Homo sapiens: one gene and its partners. The protein of the gene in region 2 purifies or fractionates together with the protein of the main gene of each other region. This does not show direct contact. Each region holds a gene or a part of one and is shown on either strand. Other genes may lie near its edges.

Region 1 (3,651 bases), about 110 Mb from region 2:
TTCTCAACTAAAACAGCCAATTCAACGAATACTGACTTAGTGACTCTTTTCTATACTTAAGAATACCTGTTTCCACAATTTATTACATCAAAAAAGAATAGGATGATGAGAACATAGTACAGTACACCCTCACTGGAACTGATCTACGCCCAGTTCCACAAATTGCAGTGCAGTGTAAGCAGGCATTTTGCCACATACCTGTGTTGTGGCTGTGATGGACAGAACAAAGGTGGGAACTGTGGAGCAGCTCAAATTGAGTAGACGACCCTGGAAAGGTAAGAGAGAGCCCTGGGATGAGCTCTGTCTCAGATTCCAATGGCATACAAGTCAAGCCAAAGCGGGAGAGGACTTTACACCCCTCTAGACTCAGTTGGAAGAGGAAGAATTACAGTTCCAGATCAGGACTCTAGGCTTTTTCCTATTTTCTGCAAATCCATCTGAGTCTGAAAGGTTAAAGAATCAGCTGTGGTTAGGAAATAGTGTTACTTAGTAAAAAGTAGATTTTTTTAAAGTGGTTTTATTTTGGGGACCAATTTGTGAAATATCTCTCTCTCCAAAGATAAAATTCAGGGAAACATAGGCCTAATATTTGTTTCCCTCCCCTCCCCCCTCATAGATCTAACTACTCTGCTTGTGCTGCTCTGCCAGGGTCCTTCTCTGTGTGTACCTCTGCCAGGAGGACAACTCGTTTGCCATCTGGCCAGATGACATGGTCCACCTGAGAACGTACTCGCTCCCACGTCAGCTCCGGAGTGCGGAGGCTGGTCTGAAAGGAAGAAAGCACAGTTGACTATGGTTATTAATGAAAGGTAGTAGAGAAATGCCTAGCAACAAATGAGAGAAGCCTTACCACATCGATTTCTGTGTTGGAGTGGCCCATATTGCATACGATACAACTGTTTTTCATGCGATCCAAGTGCTCCCGTGTCACTACATTCTTATTTCCTAAAAGAAAAGATGGGTGGTTAAGGAAAGAGATGCCGGGCAACAAAGGTACTGGCTGGCTTTCAGGTAGAACATAGGAGACCAGAGGCTTGCTGGCATTAAAGAACATGTAGACATTCTGAGAGAAGACATGCATAACCGCTCCTTAGGCTATCTGGTCTTCAGATCAAGCAGTATAAAAAGTCACCAGGGAAAAAAGTTTTTTACTCTGGAAAACATGTTAAGGTTCTGATAGCTTATTCTAGTTCTGAGACCTTTATACTGAACAGAGGTCTCACCTCCTTTGTATGAAAGTCACTCAGACTACTTTCAAGATTTAGCCTCTGAATAAACACTTCTCTATGCAAGTTATTTACCTGTGCAAGTTATTACGACATCGACTTGCCGGATGACTTCATTTAGCTTTACCACCCTGAACCCATCCATGCTGGAAGAAAAGAAAGGAACACTATGAGTAAAGCAAGAAGGCAGTGGGAGGGAAGATGGTCATGAAATGAGACAAGATCCCCTTCTAGTTGGATCCAGTGCCACCTCACAGGAATGGTGAGTGATAAGCTCTGCTAAACTATATACACTGGCCTCTTCAGAGTCCCCAAGACTCCCTCTAGGAAGGAAAAATGCCAAGAGGCTCTCAGAGAGCCCTAGGGTTAGAGTGAGAAGAACAGAGCAGTCCTAGCCTTCTCTTCCCCTAGGTGATTTCTGCAAAAATGATTAATATACTCAATTATGAACTCTCAATAACATAAAGCACCTAGAGTGAATCTAATAGTATTATCACTCTGTTCTTACCAGGCCTGCAGAGCACAGATGGGGTCGATTTCGGTAATGTAGACAATTGCTCCAAGAGCTTTGAGAGCAGCACAGCAGCCCTTGCCTACCTGCAGAACAAAAGAAAGGTCAAGTCGTTAGGTTCATTAAGTCATGGATATTTAGGGTAGGTAGGTTATTTGTGAGACAGGAATTAACCTTCATGAAATAGCCTGTCATCTGGTGAGCAGCTGCACAGACGCTCCAATCCCAAGCAGAACAGAAACAGACCCAGATTACGTTGTGAACCTCAGTTAGAGAGGTAATTTAGCAGACATGTCATAGGAAGGACTGGGGCTTTGCATAGCAGTTTTCATCAGGGAAACAAGACTAAGCAAAAGCAACTTACTCTAAGCAACCTCTAATTTCCTATTCTCTTACTTGAGAAGAATCTACTCAAGGATACCCTCGTAGCTCAGGAACTTCTTTGGGTCATTGCTGAAGACAACAAAATATGTGACCTATTCCAGTTTGGAGATATTCAACTATATGCCATTTCAGATTCCACCCTTAATTCTACTGCAAGTCACTTGTGGGGCTAAAATGCTATATATTCACTTGAATTAAGTCTCATTAAAGGTTATTGTTATAATTGGGGAAGATGATACTAGTATCTATTCCACAAGGCAAAATGGTAAAATCTGAAAACTCAATTCATTTTGTATGTTTCTATTCATAAATCTGAATAAAAGGCTTTTGCTATTGTTTGAGATACATTATCTAAAAAAATTTAAACCTTGTATCAGTGACTCTAGATTGACAGCACAAGCCTCCTTTACCCAATATTTCTAATAAGTACACAAAAAGAAAGAGACACTGAGACCCAGCTATTTACCTCACCATAGCCACACACCACCACTTGTTTCCCACCAAACATCACATCTGTGGTCCTCTTCAGGCTGTGGAAACAGACAAGGGCTCAACTCAAACGTTAATAGCTCAAACTCAGTCCCTCTTCACAAAGTTAAAAGTGTGGGCCAATGCCCATGAGAATATCAATTGGAAGCTGGTTGAGCTCAGTATGAAATGGTCCCTCTAATAAACTTTTAAAGCCAAAGGAAGACCAGAGCCCCTAGAAGTTTGAATATATATACATTCAACCTACCCATCCAAAATGGATTCTCGGCAGCAGTACAAGTTATCAAACTTCTGTTTGGTAACAGAATCATTGACGTTCATGGCCGGAACACAGAGCTTCCCAGCTTTGGAGAGCTGATACAGCCTAAAGAGAGAAGAGGTCACAAAAACAAACAAAAACCAAGTTAGCTGGCACAACATAATTTGTGGCAAAATCTGCCTAATTCTCTTCAAGTTCCATGCTGCCCTTCCCAGTCTCATTTATTGCCCAAGGATATTAGAAAACATGATTATTTCCTTGTCATCCCTCCACACTTCTTTTCATTTTCTTCTCCCTTTACCCCTTTTTTGGAAGAAAAAAAAAAGCCTTTCAATTGAAGAAATGTACTTCTCTTCCCTTTATAGGGAGTGTTATTTCCTTTGATCAGCATTTTTCAATAGAAACCCATGCCTACTTCTGATAAACAAAGACTATCAATGATTCTGATATGGTTCCGTGTGTGTGTGAGTAAGCATGCGCAATGTGCCCCCAAGAAACACTCTTTCAGATATCTTTTCAGTATTCCAACAAGCCAAGAATATTTTGCCCAGTTTTACTTTTTGTAGTGTGTATAACATGTAGTTTTACAATAGGATTGTTTTTCATATTTCAAATATAAAATGATAATACAATATTGAATACAGTTTTTCAAGATACATTTATTCCCTACCCGCCCCTCAACACTAGTTGAGAATCACTCAATGGAGTAAATGGGAGAGAAAAATGTATGAACTAGAACCTGAAATAACTTCCTTCTAGGATCAACTTGATTTTTCAAAAGT
Region 2 (3,651 bases):
GTACTATTTTATTATTATTATTTTTTCAGAGACACTGTCTCACTCTGTCACCCAGGTGGAGTGCAGTGGTGCAGTCATAGCTCACTACAGCCTCAGACTCCTGGGATCAAGTGATCCTCTCACCTCAGCCTCCCACATAGCTGGGACTACAGGTGCACACCACCACACCTGGCTAATTTTTAAAAAAATTTTTTAAAGATGGGCTTTCGCTGTATTGCCCAGGCTGGTCTTGAACTCCTGGGCTCGAGCGATCCTCCTACCTCAGCTTCCCAAGTAGCTGGGATTACAGGTGTGAGCTATCACACCAGTTTCTTTGTACTATTTTTTGCAACTTTCTGAATGCCGAAAATTATTCCTAAATAGTTATTTTAAATGTTATGTCTTTAATTAATTTCTTTCTTGTTATTAGAGGAGTTTGCTTTGCATTCAGGATAAAAGAGAGGTGGACCAGTTTGTTAATATTAAAATTTGTGAGACAGTCGCTAGCTGCATTCAGCTAATAGAATAGGAGTCTAATTTGAGGAAGAGAAACTTTGGTTTCCTCATGTTACCTTTTTTTAAAAACTTTGACAACGTATGAAAGTTGGAGAGCCTTCTAAGGAAGGGCATGTGCTGCTTATTCTAAACACTTTGAAGTTGACTTAATTTCCACTAAAGGACAAATGGTGGCTACTAGAAATATACAAGATAAGGGGGACAGATCGTCCCAAGCCTCCAAAATCGTGGAAATAGTAGATCCTGTATCCTAAATCCAGGCACAGTTTCATTTGGATTTACACATTCGGGCCACAGCTGTCTCCACAAAGATGATAAAATCCTGGGAGTGGGAGGGGCGGTCTTCGGGTGTTCTTTAGGTGGGAAATTCTCGTCTACATGTTCATGCTGCCTTCCTGAGAGCACTCTCTGAGTGGCTCTCAATCTCTCTAGCTCACAGGTGCAGTGCGGTCTTCAGCGCGCTTGAAAGCACGAAGTTGTTCGGCAGCCAGGTTGGCCTCTGCCCAGGAAGTTGCTGGTTCCACGTCTGCCAAGACAGCATGTCTGGTGAGCCCTGTTACCGTGGAGAACGCCAAGATCCTGACTCGAGGGTCCATTTTTATACAAAATTGCCACTCCAAGATGTGTTGCTTTAGAAAAATATCGACTGTTACTTATCTGCCAGAGGGGGACTATTGCAGATGAAAAGGTGACAGCACTGTAATTGCCTTCAGAGAAAGACACACTCTGCAGGCCAGGGCTGGCTCTCCTAGCACCCGCCCACCCGTGTGTGTGTCTAGACCCGGGCTCTGATCCTAGCACCCGCCCACCCGTGTGTGTGTCTAGACCCGGGCCCTGATCCTAGCACCCGCCCACCCGTGTGTGTGTCTAGACCCGGGCCCTGATCCTAGCACCCTCCCACCCGTGTGTGTGTCTAGACCCGGGCCCTGATCCTAGCACCCTCCCACCCGTGTGTGTGTCTAGACCCGGGCCCTGATCCTAGCACCCGCCCACCCGTGTGTGTGTCTAGACCCGGGCCCTGATCCTAGCACCCGCCCACCCGTGTGTGTGTCTAGACCCGGGCCCTGATCCTAGCACCCGCCCACCCGTGTGTGTGTCTAGACCCGGGCCCTGATCCTAGCACCCGCCCACCCGTGTGTGTGTCTAGACCCGGGCCCTGATCCTAGCACCCGCCCACCCGTGTGTGTGTCTAGACCCGGGCCCTGATCCTAGCACCCGCCCACCCGTGTGTGTGTCTAGACCCGGGCCCTGATCCTAGCACCCGCCCACCCGTGTGTGTGTCTAGACCCGGGCCCTGATCCTAGCACCCGCCCACCCGTGTGTGTGTCTAGACCCGGGCCCTGATCCTAGCACCCGCCCACCCGTGTGTGTGTCTAGACCCGGGCCCTGATCCTAGCACCCGCCCACCCGTGTGTGTGTCTAGACCCGGGCCCTGATCCTAGCACCCGCCCACCCGTGTGTGTGTCTAGACCCGGGCTCTGATCCTAGCACCCGCCCACCCGTGTGTGTGTCTAGACCCGGGCCCTGATCCTAGCACCCTCCCACCCGTGTGTGTGTCTAGACCCGGGCTCTGATCCTAGCACCTGCCCACCCGTGTGTGTGTCTAAACCAGGCTCTGAGGCCACTTGTGCTCATCGCTCTGCTCTTAGCGTGCTATGGAGTCATGCTGGCCCATTGCCGTGCAGCCTCACCGCCAGAGGCTTGAAGAGAAAGGCAGAGTGGGTGGGGAAAGGAATCTCATGCCGTCTGCCGTTCACCCTAGCCCAGCCATCGATTCCGAGGAGCGAGTTCCTGAACTTACCGGTGAAGTAGAGCCGCTTCACGGAGCCTACAGTTGAGGGGTTAGGACTTGGCCATATGCCAGCGTGTAGCACAGAGCTTTGCTCATGATGAGGTGCTTGGTAAAATTTTGTCGAAGTCAATTTCACAAATATTTCTTGAGCACCTACTGTGTGCCAGGCACTAATTGGTGAATAAAGCAAAGACCCCTGCCTTCACAGAGCTTATGCCCTAGCAGAAATGAATGAAAGCTGGATTCTTTTACTGTAATTGTATAATATATAAATATATGCTTCAGAATTCACCTGAGGAGCTGTAACGCCACTAGGGGAAACTGAAAGTGTAGGAGTGGTGTGGAGCTGTAACGCCACTAGGGAAAACTGAAAGTGTAGGAGTGGTGTGGGGTGTGTCTAGATTCAGTCTCGCTTGTATTTTGTCCCTTGGTGGCAAAACAGTGAAATGACGATCTGTGAAAGTTGTGGTCACAGCATCTTTATCATTTCCGATGTGAGAAGAAATACTAGCCTCTGGATTGAGGCCTGTTTTATTTGCTAGATATGTCTGGTTCCCCTTACATTTTTTTTCTTGACAGACTTCCTCATCCCACAAAGCCACAGACACGCGAACGTCCAAGAAGTTCAAATGTGACAAAGGACATCTTGTGAAGTCAGAATTACAGAAGCTTGTCCCTAAGAATGACAGCGCTTCTTTGCCAAAAGTGACACCTGAGACCCCTTGTGAAAATGAGTTTGCTGAAGGCAGTGCCTTGCTTCCAGGCAGCGAGGCTGGCGTTTCTGTGCAGCAGGGGGCTGCAAGTCTTCCTCTCGGTGGCTGCAGAGTTGTGAGTGACTCTCGCTTAGCAAAGACTAGAGATGGCCTGTCCGTGCCAAAACACAGTGCCGGGTCCGGAGCAGAAGAATCCAACAGCAGCTCCACTGTGCAGAAGCAGAATGAGCCAGGGCTACAGACAGAGGATGTGCAGAAGCCACCACTTCAGATGGACAACAGCGTCTTTCTAGATGACGACAGCAATCAGCCAATGCCCGTGAGCCGGTTCTTTGGAAACGTTGAGCTCATGCAGGTAAGAGCGGCGCCTTCCTCCTCCCGTGGGTACTCAGGCAGCAGCTGCACATTCAGGTCACACACTCCCCACTCAGTGCAGGTAAATAATGCCTCGACACAACATTAAACATAAACTAATCATTTTAACCCACGAGGAGAAAATGAAACCGTTGGCTAATTGGGGGCTCTCCCTGCATCTCCCGAGCTGAGAATCACTGCTCTCGGGAAAGGTGTGTTTCCATGAAATCAGGTTTGTGGTTTTTTTGAACATCCACCCCGCGCTTGCTGTTAATTTCTTTTGTTTTGAACCCAGCA
Region 3 (3,651 bases), on a different chromosome or scaffold from region 2:
GCCCAGCCTGGGCTAATTTTTATATTTTTAGTAGAGACGGGGCTTCACCATGTTGGCCAAGCTGGTCTCGAATGCCTGACCTCAAGTGATCTGCCCACCTTAGCCTCCCGAAATGCTGGGATTGCAGGCATGAGCCACCATGCGCAGCCTAACTCAGAATCTTTTGTATAGTTAAAAAAAAGGAAGCATGTTTTCATTTATAGTAAGGTTACACCCAGGTTACTGGTAGAACATAGGTTTGCAATTCTTTCCTTGGGAGATGAATGTTGATGTTGCTGTAGAATGATGACTTGAGCCATAAGAAAATTTAGAGCCTCATTTAGGATGTCAGGGCTGAACCTATACTAATGTTGATTTTTTCTCTCTCTCCCTTTCTAGGCTCATGTGTATTGTGAAGGAAATGATGTCTATGATGTCATGCTAAATCAGGTAAGAGGCAAGAAGAGGTGGCACCATTATATTTATGAGACCATCTTCTTGATAATTATTGATGATAGCATCACAGTGTTCAGATCTTTAAAGTCCCTTTTTTTTTTTTTTTTAAATTTTGTTTTTTCTTTTTGAAATGGAGTCTCACTTCATCTCTCAGGCTGGAATACAGTGGCACAATCTCGGCTTACTGTAACCTCTGCCTCCCAGGTTCAAGCAATTCTCCTGCCTCAGCCTCCCAAGTAGCTGGGGTTACAGGCGTGCACCACCACTCCCAGCTAATTTTTTGTATTTTTAGTAGAGACAAGGTTTCGCCACGTTAGCCAGGGTCTGGTCTCGAACTCGTGACTTCAAGTGATCCACCCACCTCAGCCTCCCAAAATGCTGGGATTACCAGGTGTAAGCCACCACGCCTTGCCTAAAGTCCTTCATATGTGTGTGTGTATATATATATATATATATATATATATATATATATATATATATTTTTTTTTTTTTTTTTTTTTTTTTTTTTTTTTTTGAGACAGAGTCTTGCTCTGTCACCCAGGCTGGAATGCAGTGGTGCAATCTCGGCTCACTGCAATCTCTGCCTCCTGGGTTCAAGCAATTCTCCAGCCTCAGCCTCCCAAGTAGCTGGGACTACAGGTGCAGTGTCTGGCTAATTTTTTGGTATTTTTAGTAGAGATGGGGTTTCACCATGTTGGCCAGGCTGGTCTTGAACCCCTGACCTCAGGTGATCCACCCACCTCACCCTCCCAAAGTGTTGGTATTACAGGCATGAGCCACTGCGCCCGGCAAGTCCTTTATATTAATATTAGCCATTAGTGGTTAAACACCTGAGTACTCAGCCCTAGCACACTCTTATCAGATAGCAGAGTCCTCTGTGAGAAGATTTTTTTTTGCAAATTTCATATCATTTATTGAAATTGTTAACTCTCTGTTCATATCCTTTTGCACATTTTTTTTTTTTTTTTAAACAGACAGGATCTTGTTCTGTCACCCAGGCTGGAGTGCAGTTTGTACAGTCATAGCCCACTGCAACCTTGAACTTCTGGGCTCCAGCAATCCTCCCACCTAAGCTTCCTGAGTAGCTCGGACTTCAGGCGCATGCCACAAAGCCTGACTAATTTTTAAATTTTTTATGGAGATGAGAATCTCGCTATGTTGGATAGGTGGTCTTGAATTCTTGGCCTCAAATGATCCTCCTGCCTTGTCCTCATGAGGCACTGGGATTACAGGGATGAGCCACTGGGACAAGCTGTTTTGCACATTTTCTAAAGTTATTGGTCCTTTTCTTACTGGTTTCGAGGAACTTTATATAATATGGAGAATAGCCTTTTGTCTGTAATACAAACCACTTGTGTTTTCCAGATTTGTCATTTACCTTTTGGTTTTCCTTATAGTACACTTTTTGCCCATATTGAAGTTTTAAATTTTTTCTGTAGTTAAATTTATTAATTTTTCCTTTTTAAAAAATTTTGGGTTTTTTTTTTTTTAATTTTAGAGACAGTGTCTTGCTATGTTGCTCAGGCTGGCCTTGAACTTGTGACCTCGTGTGATCCTCCAACCTCAGCCTCCCAAGTAGCTGGGACTACAGGCATCTGCCCCCAAGCTCAGCTTTCTTTTTAATCAACCTTTTTCTCTTGTTTACCTTTGTGGTTTTGAGTAGATAATACATTTGCCTCATTAATATATTTCCTGGATATGACTTCATGTTTGAATTTATTGATCCAACATATATAATTTTAACAACCAATTAGTATTTATTTCTTACTATTTCTTCTACTTAAAATACCACGAGCAGATAGAAAATACCTTAAGGTTAGCCAGGTGCAGTGGCTCACGCCTGTAATCCCAGCACTTTGGGAGGCTGAGGCGGGCGGATCACCTGAGGTCGGGAGTTCAAGACCAGCCTGACCAATGTGGAGAAATCCCATCTCTACTAAAAATACAAAATTAGCCAGGTGTGGTGGCATATGACTGTAATCCCAGCTACTCGGGAGGTTGAGGCACGAGAATTGCTTGAACCTGGGAGACGGAGTTTGTGGTGAGCCGAGATCGTACCATTGTACTCCAGCCCTGGGCAACAAGAGCAAAACTCCTTCTCAAAAAAAAAAAGAAAAGAAGGAAAATACCTTAAGGCAGCCAGGTGTGGTGGCTCATGCCTGTCATCCTAGCACTTTCGGAGGCCAAGGCTGGAGAATCACTTCAGGTGTGAGTTCAAGATCAGCCTGGGCAACATGGTGAAACCTTGTCTCTACAAAAAAATACAAAAACACCGGGCATGGGCCAGCTACTTTGGAGGCTGAGGTGGGAGGATTGCTTGAGCCTGGGAGGTTGAGGCTACAGTGAGCTGTGATTGAGCCATTGCACTCCAGCCTGGGTGACAGAGGGAGACCCTATCTCAAAAAAATAAAAAATAAAAACCATAAAAACATTTACAAAAAAATTTTTTAAAGGAAAAGAAAATATCAAGCTGGGCATGGTGGCTTATGCCTAAAATCCCAGCACTTTGGGAGGCCAAGGCGGGCAGATCACTTGAGTTAGGGGTTCAAGACCAGCCTTGCCAACATGTTGAAACTCCATGTCTACTAAAAATACAAAAAAAAATTAGTCTGGCATGGTGGCGTGTGCCTGTAATCCCAGCTACTAGGGAGGCTGAGGCACAAGAAATTGCTTGAACCTAGGACACAGAGGTGGCAATGAGCGGAGGTTGCACCACTGCACTCCAGCCTGGGCGACAGAGCAAGACTCTGTCTCAAAAAAAGAAAATATCTTAGGCTCCTTTTTGTTCTAACATCTAATGACCTTTTTTTTTTCACCAGTGGGCTAAGGTCGTACAATGGCTTTAGAATGTGAGCAAGCAGGAGATAGAGGTAGGAAGGGGCAGCATGCTTAACAAAAAAGAATGCCTCCATATCCAGGGCTCGGCCATACAACACCAGCTGCTATGCCTTATCATGGACTTCTCTCTCTTCACTCTGAGTGATTTACTTACAGATACCTCTTTTTAGATACTGGCCATATTCTCTCTCAGTATCTCCAAGTCAGGTCAGGTTAGGTATGGGACGGATGTGGCAGTGGTTTTGCGTATCCCTTGTCCCCTCCCATTATTGCCCTGCTCTCAGCTCATTGTCAAATTTCTGCAGCTGACAAACAAAAGCTGTGAGTAGAACTGTCAAGGAGTAAGTCATTTAACAGTTGAGCATAACAGGTTTAGAC

Evidence for each region.
Region 1: the proteins of C1orf174 (region 2) and AHCYL1 purify together in Homo sapiens (co-immunoprecipitation; 2 studies listed by BioGRID and IntAct, with this or other methods). This does not show direct contact.
Region 3: the proteins of C1orf174 (region 2) and PARP2 purify together in Homo sapiens (co-immunoprecipitation; 2 studies listed by BioGRID and IntAct, with this or other methods). This does not show direct contact.

What each region holds. Positions count from the first base shown.
Region 1 is NC_000001.11:110,015,667-110,019,317, reverse strand, and holds part of AHCYL1 (S-adenosylhomocysteine hydrolase-like protein 1), read right to left. Parts: intron 2,975-3,651; coding exon 2,858-2,974; intron 2,652-2,857; coding exon 2,588-2,651; intron 1,824-2,587; coding exon 1,735-1,823; intron 1,373-1,734; coding exon 1,302-1,372; intron 946-1,301; coding exon 851-945; intron 767-850; coding exon 668-766; intron 444-667; coding exon of another isoform or gene 399-443; exon of another isoform or gene 268-398; coding exon 199-267; intron 1-198. UniProt on the Homo sapiens protein: Multifaceted cellular regulator which coordinates several essential cellular functions including regulation of epithelial HCO3(-) and fluid secretion, mRNA processing and DNA replication.
Region 2 is NC_000001.11:3,890,273-3,893,923, reverse strand, and holds part of C1orf174 (UPF0688 protein C1orf174), read left to right. Parts: intron 1-927; coding exon 928-1,041; exon of another isoform or gene 1,042-1,175; coding exon of another isoform or gene 1,176-1,183; intron 1,184-2,144; coding exon of another isoform or gene 2,145-2,298; intron 2,299-2,866; coding exon 2,867-3,355; intron 3,356-3,651.
Region 3 is NC_000014.9:20,346,485-20,350,135, forward strand, and holds part of PARP2 (poly [ADP-ribose] polymerase 2), read left to right. Parts: intron 1-378; coding exon 379-429; intron 430-3,651. UniProt on the Homo sapiens protein: Poly-ADP-ribosyltransferase that mediates poly-ADP-ribosylation of proteins and plays a key role in DNA repair.